Linked DNA regions of Homo sapiens: region 1 is linked to region 2. A link means that fine-mapping ties the variant in region 2 to the expression of a gene that starts in the linked region. Tissue or cell type: whole blood. Region 2 holds a variant in brackets; the other region holds the start of a gene. All regions are shown on one strand. Distances are from middle to middle.

Evidence for each region. PIP is the estimated chance that this variant, and not a neighbour inherited with it, causes the effect.
Region 1: DNAJC4 starts here. The variant in region 2 is fine-mapped to the expression of DNAJC4 in whole blood (TOPMed, PIP above 0.99).

Annotation. Positions count from the first base shown.
Region 1 is chr11:64,227,118-64,235,117 of GRCh38, reverse strand. DNAJC4 (DnaJ heat shock protein family (Hsp40) member C4) reads right to left here and starts at 4,570. Exons shown (of 6, transcript NM_005528.4): 1 at 4,178-4,570; 2 at 3,154-3,247; 3 at 2,504-2,688; 4 at 2,253-2,414; 5 at 1,138-1,224; 6 at 837-1,045. The coding sequence starts at 4,263. The coding sequence ends at 934. NUDT22 (nudix hydrolase 22) reads right to left here. Exons shown (of 6, transcript NM_032344.4): 2 at 7,986-8,000; 3 at 7,452-7,550; 4 at 5,774-5,871; 5 at 5,547-5,640; 6 at 5,102-5,268. The coding sequence ends at 5,128. It overlaps VEGFB (vascular endothelial growth factor B), which reads right to left and starts at 534. Exons shown (of 7, transcript NM_003377.5): 1 at 225-534. The coding sequence starts at 284. LOC124902687 (a long non-coding RNA gene) reads left to right here and starts at 3,748. Exons shown (of 2, transcript XR_007062713.1): 1 at 3,748-3,950; 2 at 5,081-5,972. RefSeq lists silencers at 1-276, 497-986, 4,170-4,229 and an enhancer at 7,666-8,000.
Region 2 is chr11:64,117,853-64,125,852 of GRCh38, reverse strand. The region is part of intron 3 of MACROD1 (mono-ADP ribosylhydrolase 1); the gene reads left to right. FLRT1 (fibronectin leucine rich transmembrane protein 1) reads right to left here. Exons shown (of 3, transcript NM_013280.5): 3 at 6,682-8,000. The coding sequence ends at 7,561. Among named protein-coding and RNA genes, the nearest start is that of MACROD1, 44 kb to the left of the region's middle. RefSeq lists an enhancer at 3,035-3,966. The variant C/T (reference allele first, on the strand shown) is at 4,944.

The sequences.
Region 1 (8,000 bases), 110 kb before region 2:
CCAGGGGACGGGGTGGGGCGGAGGAGTGGCCCCAGACTGGGGCTGGCGGGCCAGCGGGGAGGGGCACCTCCCAGGGGATGCACGCGCCGGGCCCCCGAGACGCCCGCGTCCAAGGCCGGACCCCGCAGATCCCCTCGGCCGAGGCCGCGGGTCGCCTCCTCACTTCCGCCAACCTTGAGAGAGGGCACGGCGGGCGGGCGGGCGCGCTGTCGGGCCGCACGTACCTGGGCGGGGGCCAGCTGCAGGAGTGCGGCGAGCAGCAGGCGGCGGAGCAGAGGGCTCATGGTGCCCGCCGGGGCCGCCCGCCGGGGGCGCCCGCATCGCCCTAGCCCGGCGGCGCGGGGGGCGGCGACAGCCAGAGCCCCATGGCGCGGGCCCGGGCGCGGCGGGCGGGGGCCGGGCGCGGGGGGCGACTCCTCCGCGGCCCCCTCCCGAGCCCTGGGTGCAGGCAGCGCAGCGCAGCGCAGCGGAGGCGGCCGGAGGAGCCGGGCGGGCGGGCGGCCGGTGGCGGCGGGCAGCGGCGGCGGGGACGGCGGGGGCGGCGGGGGGCTGGGCCCGGGCTGGCGGGCAGGCGGCTCATGTGACCCAGACACGCGCTCCCCACCGGCCCGTGGGGCGGGGGCGGGGCGGCGGGGTGGGGGGGCGAGGCCGTCGGCGGGGCCCGCCTCCTCCACACACCCCCTCCCGCCTCCCGCCGCGGCAGGGGAAAGGGGACGCACCGCCCAGGAGGCTGGGCTCCCCAGTCGCCGCCGCCACTACCCGGAGGGCGGGGCGCTGCCCCTTGGCGAGGCCGGGGCCGGGGGCGTCGGGCCTTAAGGAGGGAGCCGGACACGAGCTCTGCGAATCACTTTATTGCGCGCGTTTCGGGGAGCGGGCCGTCCAGGGAAGGAAGCAAAGCGGGAACGCACTGCAGGCCCCATCCAGGTGAGCCCCTCAGGGGCCGGCGCCCCGGGGCACGATCTCGGGGCCTTGGGTTGGCTCGGATGGTGGCGGCTGCCGCTGCCCTAGCCGTTGTCGCTCCTGCTGAAGGATGCCTCTGTTGGCCCTGGAGGAGAGGGCACCTGGGTGGTTGGGATAGGGATCCCGAAGTGTGGTTCCTGGACAGGGAGCAGGGAGCAGAATAGAGCAGGGACAGACCTGGCCCGTGCCCGGGCTTCGTTGTAGAAGGCTGTGATGATCCGATCCTTTTCATCCATGAAGTTAAGGTGCATCTGCTTCACCTTCCTGCAATGGGTCACAATTAACCCTGGGAATCCAATTCCTGCTGTCCCTGAAGTCCTGCCCCCTTCCACCCCACTCTAGGGGCCTCACAGCTTTTTACCCTTACACAGGGTTAGGAACCTCAGTCTAACCCTTCCTGTGATAGATAGGGAGGGCTCAGAGTGGCCCTGGCTTGTCTAGGGTCCAATGGCATCCGAAGTCCCTGGTCACTTTGAGGTGTGACAGCAGCTGTGGACATGGGGGTGCTCCTCCCAGAAGACTAGAAAGGGTATGCGTCTAACTCCATCACTGAACTAGGCAGGCTGCTAGCAGTGGGCACTGGCCTTTAGGTATCTGCTATAGAAAATCGGCTTTGTGGCCAGGCGCGGTAGCTCTCACCTGTAATCCCAGTACTTTGGGAGGCTGAGGCGGGTGGATCACCTGAGGTCAGGAGTTTGAGACCAGCCTGGCCAATATGGTGAAACCCCATCTCTACTAAAAATACAAAACAACTAGCCGGGTGTGGTGGTGGACGCCTGTAGTCCCAGCTACTCGGGAGGCTGAGACAGAAGAATTGCTTGAACCTGGGAGGCAGAGGTGGGGTTGCAGTGAGCCGAGATTGCGCCACTGCACTGCAGCCTGGGCAACAGAGTGAGACTCCATCTCAAAGAAAAAAAAAAGAAAAAAAGAGAATAAAGAGAATCAGCTCCGTGGCACGCGTGAGAGTGGCAGGGAGATGCCTACTGCCAAATGAATGAGCTGTGCTGCATTTGCTGCTTGTGCTTGATTTTGTTTGGCTCAATCCCTTCCTGGCAGCCAGCATGAAAGATTTACATTCGAAATATGAAAAACTGTAAATGACAACGTTAGCTCTTGGTGCAGCGCTGCCTTTAATAAGTAAGGAGAGGCTCCAGAGACCAACTTCAAGCAGCTCTTAGCTTGAGAGACACAAGAGTACGGGCCACGAGGTGCTGTGGAGGACTGGCTGACCACACTGGAATTCACCCACCCTCCTGCCCTCTGCCCATCACCCCGGGGAGAACAGGCATCACCTGAAGGCAATGTAGTGCAGGCCCATGCCCGCCAGCATGAGGAGGAGGCAGTACCCCAGCACTTGTTTGTTTTGTTTGTGTTGCTGCTGCCTCAACTGGGGCCCCTGTGGCCTCACGCTGTGAAACTGGGACCAGTACTGTGCGTTGGGGGGTGTCCAGGAGCTGCTGGGAGGCAGAGGAAGGGACATTGTGGAAATGAGACTACCCAAGAGACCTGGGGGTGGGGCAAGCTGAGGGCAGGATTACTGTACCTGTGTGTTTGGTGGGCAGACTTGTCATGGACTGTGGTTCGTGGAGACTTTGGGGGACTACCTGAGCGGAGCTGGTCATCATAGCTGCGGCGGCTCTGCTCACGGCTGAGCACACGGTATGCCTCGCTCAGCTCCACAAAGCGGCTGTGCAGGCTTGGGTTCCCAGGGTCCCGGTCTGGGTGCAGCTGGGGTGGGGCAGGACTCCCCTTATCTCCCTTTGCCTGTCCCTCCCCAGGACCCATGCTGATGACATCCACCCACCAGGGCTCCAGTCATACCCAGAGGCCCTGCCTGGTCAGTGACCCTCACTCAGGCCTGCCCACTCCTCAGAAGGCCAGAGAGCATGGACTCCTGCTTCCTCCTGTGTTCAAGCCCTCCCCACCTGCCAGCCCCCTGCATTCACCATATGCCCTGGTCCAGGTTTCTCAAGAGCAGGCAGGCAGGTCAAGAAAACCAAGCCCAGCCCATCAGACAGGACCCCTGGCTCCTGCCCACAGCCTTTCCCCTACCATTGAGCACCTGCCACTCCCTATGAGGGCTGAAAAAATGTGGCACCCGCCAGAGATGCTGGTCTACTCCTGGGAATTTGAAGCACACCCCCACTGGCTCAAAGTTCCTGCTCCCCCTCCCCACCTCAGGGGTACGGGTACCTCTTTGGACTTGGAGAAGAAAGCTCGTTTAACTTCCTCAGTGCTGGCACCAGGATGCACCCCCAACAGTTCATAATAAGTACTGGGTCTGGACCTGTGGACAGAGTCCCAAACCTTGCAGGGGCTGAAGGAACCCAGAAGCTAGCTCTGCCCTGCCTTCTGGGCCACACCCTTCAACTCAGCCACCAGGAGCTGACAGGGCTGAAACAGGTCCCAGGACAGATCTGTCTCCAGATCAGCACCCCCTTTGGAGTGTTTCAGGCATAGTGCAGGTCAGGATTTCTCAAAGTGGAGTCCAAAAACTTGTTGGAAAAAACTGATTCCTGGACAGGCGCGGTGGCTCACGCCTGTAATCCAGCATTTTGGGAGGCCGAGGAGGGCGGATCACCTGAGGTCGGGAGTTCAAGACCAGCCTGACTAACATGGAGAAACCCTGTCTCTCCTAAAAATACAAAATTAGCCGGGCGTGGTGGTGCATGCCCGTAATCCCAGCTACTCGGGAGGCTGAGGCAGGAGAATCGCTTGAACCCGGGAGGCGGAGGTTGTGGTGAGCCGAGATTGCTCCATTGCACTCCAGCCTGGGCAACGAGCGAAACTCCATCTCAAAAAAAAAAAAAAAAAAGGAAAAAGAGAAAGAAACTGATTCCTGACCCCCACCCAATTGATTCCTCCAGTTCAGAATCTCCAGAGCAGAGCCCAGGAATCTGGATTTTGTACCCGACACCTCCCCATCTCCCACCCCCCACAGAGGGTTATGCACAGTGATACAGCGATGCTTGGAAACCACTAGAGCTGTGGTAAGAGCGTTGGGTTTGACCTGGACTCAAACTTCCTCCTCTGCCGCTTAAATCGGTGTATGACCTTGGGGGTCTTCTCTATCTCTGATCCTCAGCAGGGAAGGCGAGGGTTACCTGAGACAAACCTGGGAGCCTCCTGACACGGAGTAGAGACCACAACTAACTCAGCACGTAGGGCAAACAGAAACCCATTGAACAACCGGGCCGGCCCCCCGCGCCCAACTCACCGCTGCCCGGCGGCCGCTCCGAGGAGCCGGGAGGGAGGGTTGCGGGGCCACAGCCGGCACAGGCGCAGGGGCAGTAAGGGCGGCATGGCGGCGGGCGGGCAGCTGGGAAAGGAGGCTACCAAGAGCGCATTGGACCAGGATGGGGCTAGACTTCAAGCACCCGGGGGCAGAGGGAAGGGGCCTGGCCCGTTGTTCTGCAAAGGAAGACTGAAGCAGGCCCGGAGAGGGGGCGGTTCTTGCCCAGGACCAGACCCGCGTGTCCTTGGACCTGCCCCTTCCTCTGACCCGGGCATCCGCAGCCCTTCCCAGCGCTGGCTTCGGGGTCTGGCCACCCAGCCAGGGACCCCAAGACCCCGTTCCCACCCAGGGAACTTGGGGACGGGAGAAGGAGGGGCCACAACCAGGCCCCGCCCCCGCTGCTCACAGACCCGCGGCCGTCGCCATTTCCTGCGTCTATTCAGGCCCCGCCCTCACATTCTCATTGGCGTGGATGCCAAGACCACGTCCACCTGTCAGGAAAAAAAAAAAAATCGGTGGAGACCCCGCCCCTACATGTCTATTGGCCTTTGGTGCCTCCGGTCCCCCAGCCTGCGGACTCGCTGGACAGGCGCGGGCGCCCACCTGGGGAGCGGGCGGGACAGAGCCCGCTCTCTGCGGCTTTGTGACGTTTTCGGCCCGGCCACCGTGTCTCCGTTCCGCTGTTGCTCCCCTCTGCAGCGAGGTATATCTTACGGAGCTGCTTCCGCCCCGGAGCCTCTCTGGAGCCAGCAAAGAAAGGGAGGCACAGTTCTTATCCCCTGCTTGCAGAGGGGGACACAGGCTGGGCGGGTTTTTTTTTTTTTTTTTCCCAAGTCACTTGTCCTGCCTTACACACTCAGGGCCCATTGCTCCTCTCTGTTACAGAAATAGCAGATGCCAACGGAATCCAAGAATAAAGTCGTTTATTATTTTCAGAGCGGCGGGAGTAGGGCTGGGGACCCTAGGGCCGCTCCAGTGGGACTTCCCTGAACCCGGTTGTAGAGGATGATGGCGCCTTTGGCCGAGGGGCAGAGTTCAGCCCACATCTCCGTCTCGAGCAATCTCTGCACGTTCTGTGGGGAGACAACGAGACCCAGGCATTCAAGCTTGCCACTTCTCCTGCCAGGGCTGTGCCCAGAATTCCTGAGCCTCAGAGACCTCTGCACTGTCCTTAGGGAGGCATGTTAAGGGGCTGAACATGTCCCTGGACCTTTCCCTTGCACTGAGGGCAAATCTTGTGACTCTGGAGGGAATTGTGACCCAGCCAACACCTCCCCTACAAGATATGCATTGCCAGGCCTCTGCAGGCCCCAGCCCTGGCCTCCAAGCAAGATGGTTTGTCACTCTGCACCTGTGTCTCCACAAAGAAGATTCCTGTAGACTCGTGGGCCTCGGGTCCCCCACTCAGGTAGTGCTTCCTCACCTGCTCAGAAGTCAGGCTGCACCTGGACAAGAACACAAGGGTGGCTTAGTGGGTGACCAGCCCCTGCGGGGTACCTGTGGAGCCACAGCTGCCTCAGCCCACTCCTCACCACCCACCTTCCCAAGACCCAGGATCATGTACCCGAGCCTACTCACTGGACATAGAACTCGGCACTGGCTCGGCCAGCACTGGTCTCATTTCGGGCGATGCCCAACAGCAGGGGCTGGCTCAGGGTGAGCAGCGGCAGGTTCACCTGCGGTGGAGGGTGGGGTGGGGGGAGGTCCCACCTATCAATGCCACTGCCCACATCCCTGCCCGTCTCAATGAAAAACCGCCTGTTACCTGTGTACAGCATTTTATAGCTTGTAGATCAAGGACCCAGCATTACAGAATGTCAGATGATGGGCATGTTTGTTTTACAGGTACACCAAAACCAGAGAGATTGAACACGTTGCCCAAGGTCACCCAAGAGAAGTCAATTTAGTGACTGGGACTCCCACTTACTCCTTTTTCTTTTTTTCTTTTTTTGAGATGGAGTCTCGCTCTGTCGCCCAGGCTGGAGTACAGTGGCACGATCTCAGCTCACTGCAACCTCTGCCTCCCAGGTTAAAGTGATTCTCCTGCCTCAGCCTCCTGAGTAGCTGGGATTACAGGTGCACGCCACAACGCCTGGCTAATTTTTTGTATTTTTAGTAGAGATGGGGTTTCTCCATGTTGGCCAGGCTGGTCTCGAACTCCTGACCTCAGGTGATCCGCTGGCCTTGGCCTCCCAAAGTGCTGGGATTACAGGTGTGAGCCACCACACCCTGCCACACTTACTCCTTTTTCTTTTTTTTGAGACGGAGTCTCGCTTTGTCGCCCAGGCTGAAGTGCAGTGGCGCGATTTCGGCTCACTGCAACCTCCGCCTCCCGGGTTCACGCCATTCTCCTGCCTCAGCCTCCTGAGTAGCTGGGACTACAGGTGCCCGCCACCACGCCCGGCTAACTTTTGGTATTTTTAGTAAAGTCAGGGTTTCACCGTGTTAGCCAGGATGGTCTTGATCTCCTGACCTTGTGATCTGCCCACCTCAGCCTCCCAAAGTGCTGGGATTACAGGCATGAGCCACGGCGCCCGGCCACTTACTCCTTTTTCAACAGACTTGGGGAGTAGGCAAGATATTTATCATTGTTTCCATTGAAAAGAAGAATCCTTGGCGGGGCAAGGCATGAGAATCACTTGAACCCAGGAGGCGAAGGTTGCAGTGAGCCGATATGCCACCACTGCACTAGCCTGGGCAACAGAGCAAGACTCTGTCTCAAAAAGAAAAAAAAAAAAAAGAAGAAGAATCCGGCCTGGTGCAGTGGCTCACACCTGTAATCCCAGCACTTTTGGAGGCTGAGGCAGGCAGATCACGAGGTCAGGAGATCAAGACCATCCTGGCTAACAAGGTGAAACCCCATCTCTACTAAAAATACAAAAAAAATTAGCCAGGCATGGTGGCGGATGCCTGTAGTCCCAGCTACTCAGGAGGCTGAGGTAGGAGAATGGCGTGAACCCGGGAGGTGGAGCTTGCAGTGAGCAGAGATCGTGCCACTGCATTCCAGCCTGGGCAACAGAGCGAGACTCTGTCTAAAAAAAAAAAAAGAAAGAAAAAAGAAAAGAAGAAGAATCCAAGGCAGAGGGTACTGAGGGCTAGAATTCCACTCCAAGTATGTATAGCTGCAAAGCCAACTTCTTCCCTCATTGCTGGCCAGATGCCTGCAGGCCTCCTGCCAGCCCAGACCTGTAGAATTCTGGCAAGTCCTACCCCCTCCCTTCATGTCTACCACCCTGTCCAGGTCAACCTCACTCACCTCATCACAGATCTCCTGAAGGACACTGGAAAAGAGTTCATGTACCACCAGCTGCCCAGCGAGGTCCTGGTGCTGGGGGCTGCCACCAGGGCACAGGGCCTGTGAGAGGTCAGGCTCAGCCCCTGCTCCCCACCTCTTCCCCCTGCCCCATCTCAGGACCAGCAAGCCTATACCTGCTGGCCTTGAGGGTCTGATGTGGCACAGTGTAAGAGAGTTAGTGATCCTGAGTCTGGTGTCCTTTCCCTGACAGACAACCAGAGGTCCAGCTTCAAAGGAGATACACAGGGGGCAGGGGTGGAGTAGGGCATCTTCTTCCTGTGCCCAATCTTTCCTCCCGTGTTTTCTAGTTTCTCACAGGACTGGGGCAGGGGTCAGTGGGGAGGCAGGTGGACTGCCCTGAGCAAACTTCCAGAGAAATACCAGGCCAATTTTCCCTTTAAGGAATGAGGAAACCAAAGCTGGGAGGATTGGGAGGGTGGAGAGCTGCAGCTCCCTTGAGCTGTCTGGGTCTTTGTGCCCAGCCTGGAATCTCACCTGAGGCTCAGGGTG
Region 2 (8,000 bases):
CAGCAGGCAAGGCAGCAGGTGTCGCCTGGGATCTGGATTTCTTGCAGCGCCTCTGTGGGGCCCTCCCCCAGTTCTCTCCCCCTTGTCATCCACTCAAGGCAAGTCTTGGAGAAGGGAAACTGAGTTACTGACACAGGTTGGGGCAGCCACCGGATCTCTCAGAGTGGCTACATTTCTCCATCTGGCTCACAGCTGGCAACACGTGGATCCAAGGCAGGGTGGAGCGAGGTGCTTCCAAGAGGTAAAGCTGCTGAGATGAGCCCCTCTCTGTGCCAGCTGCTGGCGGGGCAGGAGCAGGACGAGAGAAGCCTGTTTGTTGCCAACACTCGTGCCTGGGCCATCCTCAATGAGTGGGCAGATGGCAACTGGGGAGGAAGTGAGAGGAGGAGGCGGCCTCGTTCCGTTGGTGGCAGAGAAAGGATTGAGTACCCCTGTGTGCCAGGCACTGTGCTGGGCCCCAGTGACCCTGGGAAGGGCAAGGTGCTGACTCTGACTATCTACCTTGATGAGATTTAGGGCTGTGGCAGCAAAGACCTTCCTTTGAGGACTCTCTGGTCTTAGGCTTTGGGCTTTCAGGTGTGGGGAGGCAGGGGGGCCAGGGCACTGTGCCCACTCAGATGGCCACAGTGCTTTGGGGGCTGGCTTTGTTAGGACGTGGGGGCAGTCATCCCACCCACAGGTTGCCCTATGCCCTCAGCACACCCTCACTCTCTCCTGGCACAGGCCGGGCATTTCAGTGACAAGGGGCGGGAGGGGACAGTGACAGTGGTCTCAAAGAGCCAGGCCCTGGCCAGGGTCTCCAGCAGGTACCAGAAGCAGGAGCTGTCCCAGGCAGGGGTCTCCGGGGGAGACGTGGAGAAAAGACGAGGCTTTGGCCGGGCACGGTGGCTCATGCCTGTAATCCCAGCACTTTGGGAGGCCAAGGTGGGCGGATCACCTGAGGCTGGGAGTTCAATACCAGTCTGAGCAACATGGAGAAACCCTGTCTCTACTTAAAATGCAAAATTAGCCAGGCATGGTGGCACACGCCTGTAATCCCAGCTACTCAGGAGGCTGAGGCAGGAGAATCACTTGAACCCGGGAGGCAGGGGTTGCGGTGAGCCGAGATTGCACCATTGCACTCCAGCCTGGGCAACAAGAGCAAAACTCTGTCTAAAAAAAAAAAGAAAAAGACCAGGCTTTGCTCTGTGGCTTTGGGGGTCTCCAGGCACACCCGCAAATCTGTTATGGTGAGAAAGGGGGCCTGACCCCCACTTTTGGAATTTCCAAAACCAGGGAAAACCCACAGATTAAAAATGCCGAGGGAGGGGGAAGAGCAAAGGGAGGGGATGGAGAGCAAAAAGAATCTTTCTGTGAGTTTTTTAAAAAGAAGCAAATATGGGTATTTCAGGCACCTACTTGGAACATTTCAAAAGAAACAGTAAATGCTTAAAACCACAGAGTGAAAAGTGCCCCAGGCGCCATCCACCGGCGGTGATGGATGGATGGATAGATACAGTGGCAGCAGCAGCAGCATGAGCGTGTTGGACTGCACGTGGGGCAGCCCTGGCTTAAGAGACAGGTCCAGGACGCAGCCTGGGCTTCGGAGCTGCAGGGCCTGGGAGGCGCTCTCTGTCAGCCCCTCTGGCGAGCCATAGGTGCTGAGTTTAGACTCTGGAAAGGGGGTGGCATGTATCTGTACTTTCTTGGTGCCTCTTGGACACTGAGGATGGGTATTTTGCAGCCTCTCTGCTGGCACAAGTGGCTCTTTGGTGGGGCAGGATGGTCTGGCTTCAGGACTGCCCTGACTTGGGGTTTTCAGGGGACACCAGTGACTTTAAACAACATGGTGAACTTCTCTTGATATCTGCTCCCTTTCAGTGTCCTGGGGGATGAGAAAGCAAGGGTGGGAACCAGGATCTTCTAGTCAAAGCACCAGACCTTGGGAGGAAAATATCTGCCACGTCCCCATCTAGTGCTTGAATGCTCCCAGTGACGGAGAGCTCACTGCCTGTTTCCTTTGCTGGGCTAGAGTTTCTCTTCCCTGACCTTCAGTTTTCCCTTTACCCACTCCCCTTTTACTGGCCACAAGGAGTGGATTGGAGACAGACCCACCCAGAACAGAAAGGAAGCAGAAAAGCCCACGGCTCTAGAGTCCTACTTTCTAAGGACTGGATGGGCCACTTGTCCCAGAGGCCTGAGTCCCTTTCCCTAGGGCAGTGCTGGAGCCTCAAGCCTGAGTGCTCTGGTCCATTTGGTGTTGTCTTCAGAGACCCTGGCTCCCCAGGGAGCCAAGCCAGGGCAGGTGCCCCCATCTTGCACCCCCAACCCCCCCACCCCACCCATCGAGGCCCAGAAAGTCCCTGCTATGCAGATAGCCACTTGGGGCAGGTTCATAAACCACGAAAAATCCCCCTTTCCCTGCACCTCCAAGGAGTTTAATCTCTCCTAATCAATTTAGCAGACTTGCTTGGTTGTAAACGGTAACGATTTGCATTTTTGAGCCTTTTTATCCCTCCTTAAGAAAAAAAAATGCCTCCTCTCTGCACTCGGAAGGCCAATGCACGGCTGCGAATCGCCTGTGAGTGCTTGCCCTGGCGCCCATCCAGGGGCAGGCAGCAGCCACCGTCACCTGTGCCAATCGAGTATGAGGAGGCACGCGGACGCCCGTCACTGACCCTGGCTGCGTCCTGGCCCTGAGAGCAGGGTCTGGCCCTTGGGGGCACAGGTCCCTGCGCCCGGCCCCTCCTGCCAGCACTGCCCCTGCTCTCCCCGTTGCCCTCCCCGCCCCTTTGCTCCCTCTTTGCTGCATCCAGTTCTCCTTGTTGTATTTTTCATAAGTGCAAGGCTCAGAAGCCCCAGCCTCCTCTCTGGCACGTTCAGCAGGAAGCAGGTTTCTGAAGTGGGCTGGCTTTGGGACTTGAGCTGCCATTTTCAAGGGGGAGGGTCTGCTCTTTCTCCTCCTCTCCTGGCTCCTTGGCTCCAGGGCCGGAGGTGAAGGAGGGAGGCACAGGTTCCGAGGCAGCCTTGGGTCCCAGCCTGTCCTCTGCTCAGGCCCTGACCAGCCCCTCCAACCCTTCAGGGATCCCTCACCTGACTTGGGCCAGCTAGAACCTTTCAGCACCAGCAGCGGGGAAGGGCCCCCACTTGGCCTCTGGAGCACCAGTTTCCTGAGTGACGCTGGACCCCTCCCTAGCACACCCCCACTTTACAGAAGGGGAAACAGAGGCTGTATTCTCACCAAACCCTCTTTCCCTGCACCGCTCTGGAAACATCTCCCCGACCCCCTCCTCAGCTCTCTGCCTGGCTTTGTTCGGACAGGGCTGGGCTGGGCTCAGAGGGAGGGTTTCCCAGATCCCCAGGGGAAGGAGGAGACCCGGTGCCTGTGTAGAGGGAGGGAGAAGAGGCACACGGCAGGTGTGGGCTTTGGGCTTTGGGAGAGTCAGGTTGGGCCCCTCCTAGCTGCTGCCATCTTCCCAGGTGCTGTCCCCTCCCCTGCCAGCGTCACCCAGAGCCAGGAAGGTGCAATGCCCCTGCTCTTGGCTCCGGACCTGCATCCTGGCCCTGTGTCAGGGAGGCCCCTGGCCGCCGCATGCACCATGTTAGCGTGGAGCAAGCCCCAGCCTATTTAGAGAAGATGGAGGCTGTGGCGGGAGGCCGTGGGGAGGGGGAAGGAGAAAAGGGAAGAAAAGGAGCTTTTGATGCACATCATGTCTGTGGAATTGAGTATGACTAATTAATAGATTTTATTTTTAGTAATCTCTTAAGCATTCCATACATTGGGCCCCACGCCTGAGCTGAGCTTACAAGAGGCCTCATTCGCAAAATGCAAATGATTCCCGGCCTGCTGGTGCCTTCTCTCTCTCCTTCCTTGCCTTTTCTTTCCTTTCCTTTTTTTTTTTTAGGGGAGATTTAAAGGAAAATTGCCATGTAATAGAAAAGAGATTCCAATCACTACATCTAATTACCACGAAGGGTAAACCACTTAACCAAAGAAGCGTCATGGGCTTTTTTTATCTTTAACTTTAAACCTGCCTTAAATGCCACAAAACGTACTCATCAGTGCTGGGGCCGCTGAGGTTATTCTGGCTACTTAGAGGCTGTGAGGGTCAGCCCAGCCGCGGACGTTCCCTTGGAAATGTCAGCTGTGCACGGGAGCCCGGGAGAATTTAGACAGGCTGGGGTTGGCATCCCAGGCCTTGTGTCCTCACGCATGTCTGAGGTGTAGGGGAGGCTGGGTGTCCTGAAACATCTCCTATCTTGTGGTATGAGACCAGCTGGGAGGAGCTGGGCCAAGAGGGGATGGGGTTTCAGAACGGACCTAGCTTCTGGCCCCTCCCTGGCTGAGGGGCTGTGACACAGCAGATATTTGGGGGCTTCCTCTGGGAAAGCCCAGAAAGGACCCTGGGAAGGTGTCAGGATAGCTAAGGGGCAGAAAAGATGAGAAAGTCAGCTCTAGAGCTGGGTCCCAGGGCCCTGACTGGGTGGAGCATCTACCTTCCTCCACACTTAGAGCGCCAGTGGGTGGGTGATCCCCACGATGAGGCAGGCAGGGTCTGGTAAGAGGGGCCGAGCCCCGCCCTCGCCCAGTTAGTGCAAGAACCAGGAACAGGAGACTCGCGTGGTCCTGGGGCCCAAGGAGCTCCTCTGGGGCAGCTGCCAGGGCTCCTGCCTGCCTGGGCCTGCTCTGTGCAATGGGAGGGGAGGAAAGCTCATCACTCAGGCCTTGTCTCGGAGGGCGTGGCTGGGCACAGGCTGGCTCCCAGCTCTGCCTGCTCTCTAGCACTAAGTCTCCCGCACTCCTGCCCCAGCCAAGCAGGACCTTCCCAGGCAGCTCTCACGGTCCGGGCCACCTGCTGTCCCCAGATGCCTTCCTAGCCACTAAGGGCATGACCTGACCTGTCTAGGGTGGGGAGAGGAGACAGGGGGACCTAGGTGAGGTGGGGACAGTGTGCTGGCAGCAC[C/T]GTGTTGCAGATGGGCGGGACTTGGGGGAAGGCAGTGATCAGAGTGGTGCCCTTCAGGGAGGGGTGGTCTCATTTTAGAATCAGCAGAGACCTGGGACTTCTGTCCCCTGTGCCAACGTGGCACACCTCGGGCACGCTCTCCTCCCAGACATCCCAGGTGGGCCCTTCTGCTCATCTCGGGGCTGGGGGGCCATGGTCCACTGGGAGGGCCTACTTTTTTTTTTTTGAGATGGAGTCTCACTCTTTGCCCAGGCTGGAATGCAGTGGCGCAATCTCGGTTCACTGCAGCCTCTGCCTCCCTGGTTCAAGCGATTCTCCTGCCTCAGCCTCCCGAGTAGCCAGGTAACAGGCGCCTGCCACCATGCCTGGCTAATTTTTGCATTTTTAGAGAGACGGACTTTCACCATGTTGGCCAGGCTGGTCTCAAACTCCTGACCTCAGAAAATCTGCCTGCCTCAGTCTCCCAAAGTGCTGGGATTACAGGCGTGAGCCACTGCACCCGGCCTGGGGCTGCCTTTTATACAGACCTGACATTAAGGCCTGGGGAAATTTCTCTCTTGACCTTATTGTGTGAGAAAATGATTCAGGCAGGAAAAGGAAAAACACGTCTAGTTTCGAGTGAAACGTGACCACGCTGCTCGGCTGTTCCCCAGGGCTGGGGAGTGGACCTATTTCGTGGGCTAGCCCCCCCAGGCCGTGCTGGGAGCCTGTGCCCATTTTTCCACTTTCCACGTGGCTGTTGTGTCCGCTCCTTTCAGCCCCATCTCCTCACTGAAGGTGGCGGTCGGGCCTTTTAACGTAACCCCTGCCCCGCTGCTGCTTCTGCCTTTGCTTTTCGCACGGTGGTGGAGGCCGTTTGAAAATAGCACCACCAGGCGCTCCCAGCCCTCTCATCCTCCTGCCCTCGGACCAGCATCTCCTCTTTGACGTTCCTTTTCCTTGGCGCAGAACAAGCGGCACAGTGACAGATGGTGACCCGGGCTCCCTGAGTACTGGGACGCAGGCACGTCGGAACCCCAGGCTCCGCTCTTCCTCCCTCTCCAATTCGCTGTCATTATTTCATCATCGTTTTAATCTCATGGCTCACCACACTGCACTGTCAGTTGATAAATGCATGATAGCGACATGGATTCCAGAGGGAGGAAATAAAATCTTAACTCTTCTGAGGGTCCCAGTCAGGGCCCTTTCGGAGGCTGGCATTTTTAGAAAGAGATCTGGTCTCTCCCTCTCAAGAAACAGAGTCCCAGGGGTGGGCCCAGCTGAGTTTTCTACATTCAGGGAGGGACTGCCATCACCCAGGGCTTTTTCGAGAATTTTTGTGTCTTTTTCTGGGCTTTGTTTGAGCAGCCATGGAAACCAATAGGTCTAATCAGCTGATATTTAAAAAAAAAATCCCTGCGCTAATTACCCGTCCTAGGAGGGAACATTCAGCACATGGTAAATGCTCAGAAAGTAGCTGTTAAGGTGATTGCACGTGGTGGGGGAGGGAGACGAGGACACTGGAATCAAATAAAGCTTTTATCTGTATCAGAAAGGAGAGCAGCCCAGTGCTGGCCAAGCTGAGCCAGGATGGGACTGGCAGCCCCAGCTGCGACGCCTCCCTAAGCCACCCGTCTGAGACATACACACCTCAGCCTTTAGGAACAGCAGCAGCCCCTGGAGACCAAGTCTCCTCCCCCACCTCACTCCCATCCCCAACACACGGTCTACTTACTCAAGGATTTCTAGGAGAAAGCAACACTTTCACAATTCTATTGTTCAGGAAATGGTAAGAACTGACCCAAGAAGAACGGTAAGGACCGTGCATGTGGCTCTATCTACCCATCTGTACTTAGAGACACCGCGACAGGGATAGACAGGCAGACAGATGCACCTCCAGGTGGCAGGGAAAGCTACGGCTTCCGCCGGGGCTTCTACGGAGCGTGGTGCATGGAACTGAAGAGGGCTTCAGCCTAGGAAAAAAAAGTTTGTTTTTTTTTTTTAATCGACTACATGATTGTTCAAAGAATGCAGTGAAAGATGCCATGTTTCTGCAAATCTGCAAGGGAAATGGTATGGAATAAGCCAGGGGAGAGATTTCAGGACCATATCTCCAGGGCAAAAGATCTTTTCTTCCCTCTCTCCTTTGTGAGGAGCCTGAAAACCTTCCATCGGGTCGCCAGCGAGTGGCCAGTGGCGGGAGAGCTGCGTGGGAGCTTTGAGAGCCGGCTGCTTCTCCCTGGCGGTTCCTTTGTGATGGCCTTGAACAGAGCATGAGGTGTCCACAGATGTTGTACAGGTAGTATCCTTCCAGTTCAGGGGGGAAAAAAAAAAAACCCAACCCAGCCCTGCCTGCAATATTATTTTTAGTCCTTCCCTCCCCAACTGGCATAACTTGGTATAAATTATGTCTTCAACAATGTCGAATTCCCCCTCCTGCCTTCTATTCTTTTAAAAAAAATTGTCACTGTTGTGTTCTACAAAATCGTCAGCCCTCCCCAAACTTTGCTTTCTGCGGAGGAAAGTCACCCATGGAATTTCTCTTCCTTGCTCTCTTGGATTGCAGCAGGCTGGGCAAAGCCACATGGCCACGCCAGGGCAGCTGGGGCTGAGGCGGGGCAGCCCGGGTGGGCGGGCATCATGTGTAGGAGTAGTCTATGTCGGGGATGCCGCCGTCCCGGTAGCCCCGCGTGGTGCCGTAGCCAATGGTGTGTGTGGCCTTGCAGAGGCTGCTGCCGTTGGAGGGGAAGATAGTGTGGACCACGTACTCTTCTTTGGCGCGGTACGGGTTGATGGGCAGCATCTGCAGCCCAGGGCCGCGGATTTCCAGGATGGAGTTATCCTTCTTGGTCCCTGACTCCATATAGTCATCCTTTTTCCTGCTGCCCCGGTTGTAGGCCCTCTCCCGGGTCAGCAGCTCGCCAGCCTGGTGCACGTACCAGCAGATGGCCCCCAGGACCAGGAAGAGGAAGACCAGAGCCACTGCCCCGCCGATGATGCCCGCCAGGGGCAGGCTCGCCATGGGGCCAGCGTTCTGCTCCTGGTTGAGTGTGGTGGTAGGGCCATAGCTGTCGGCTG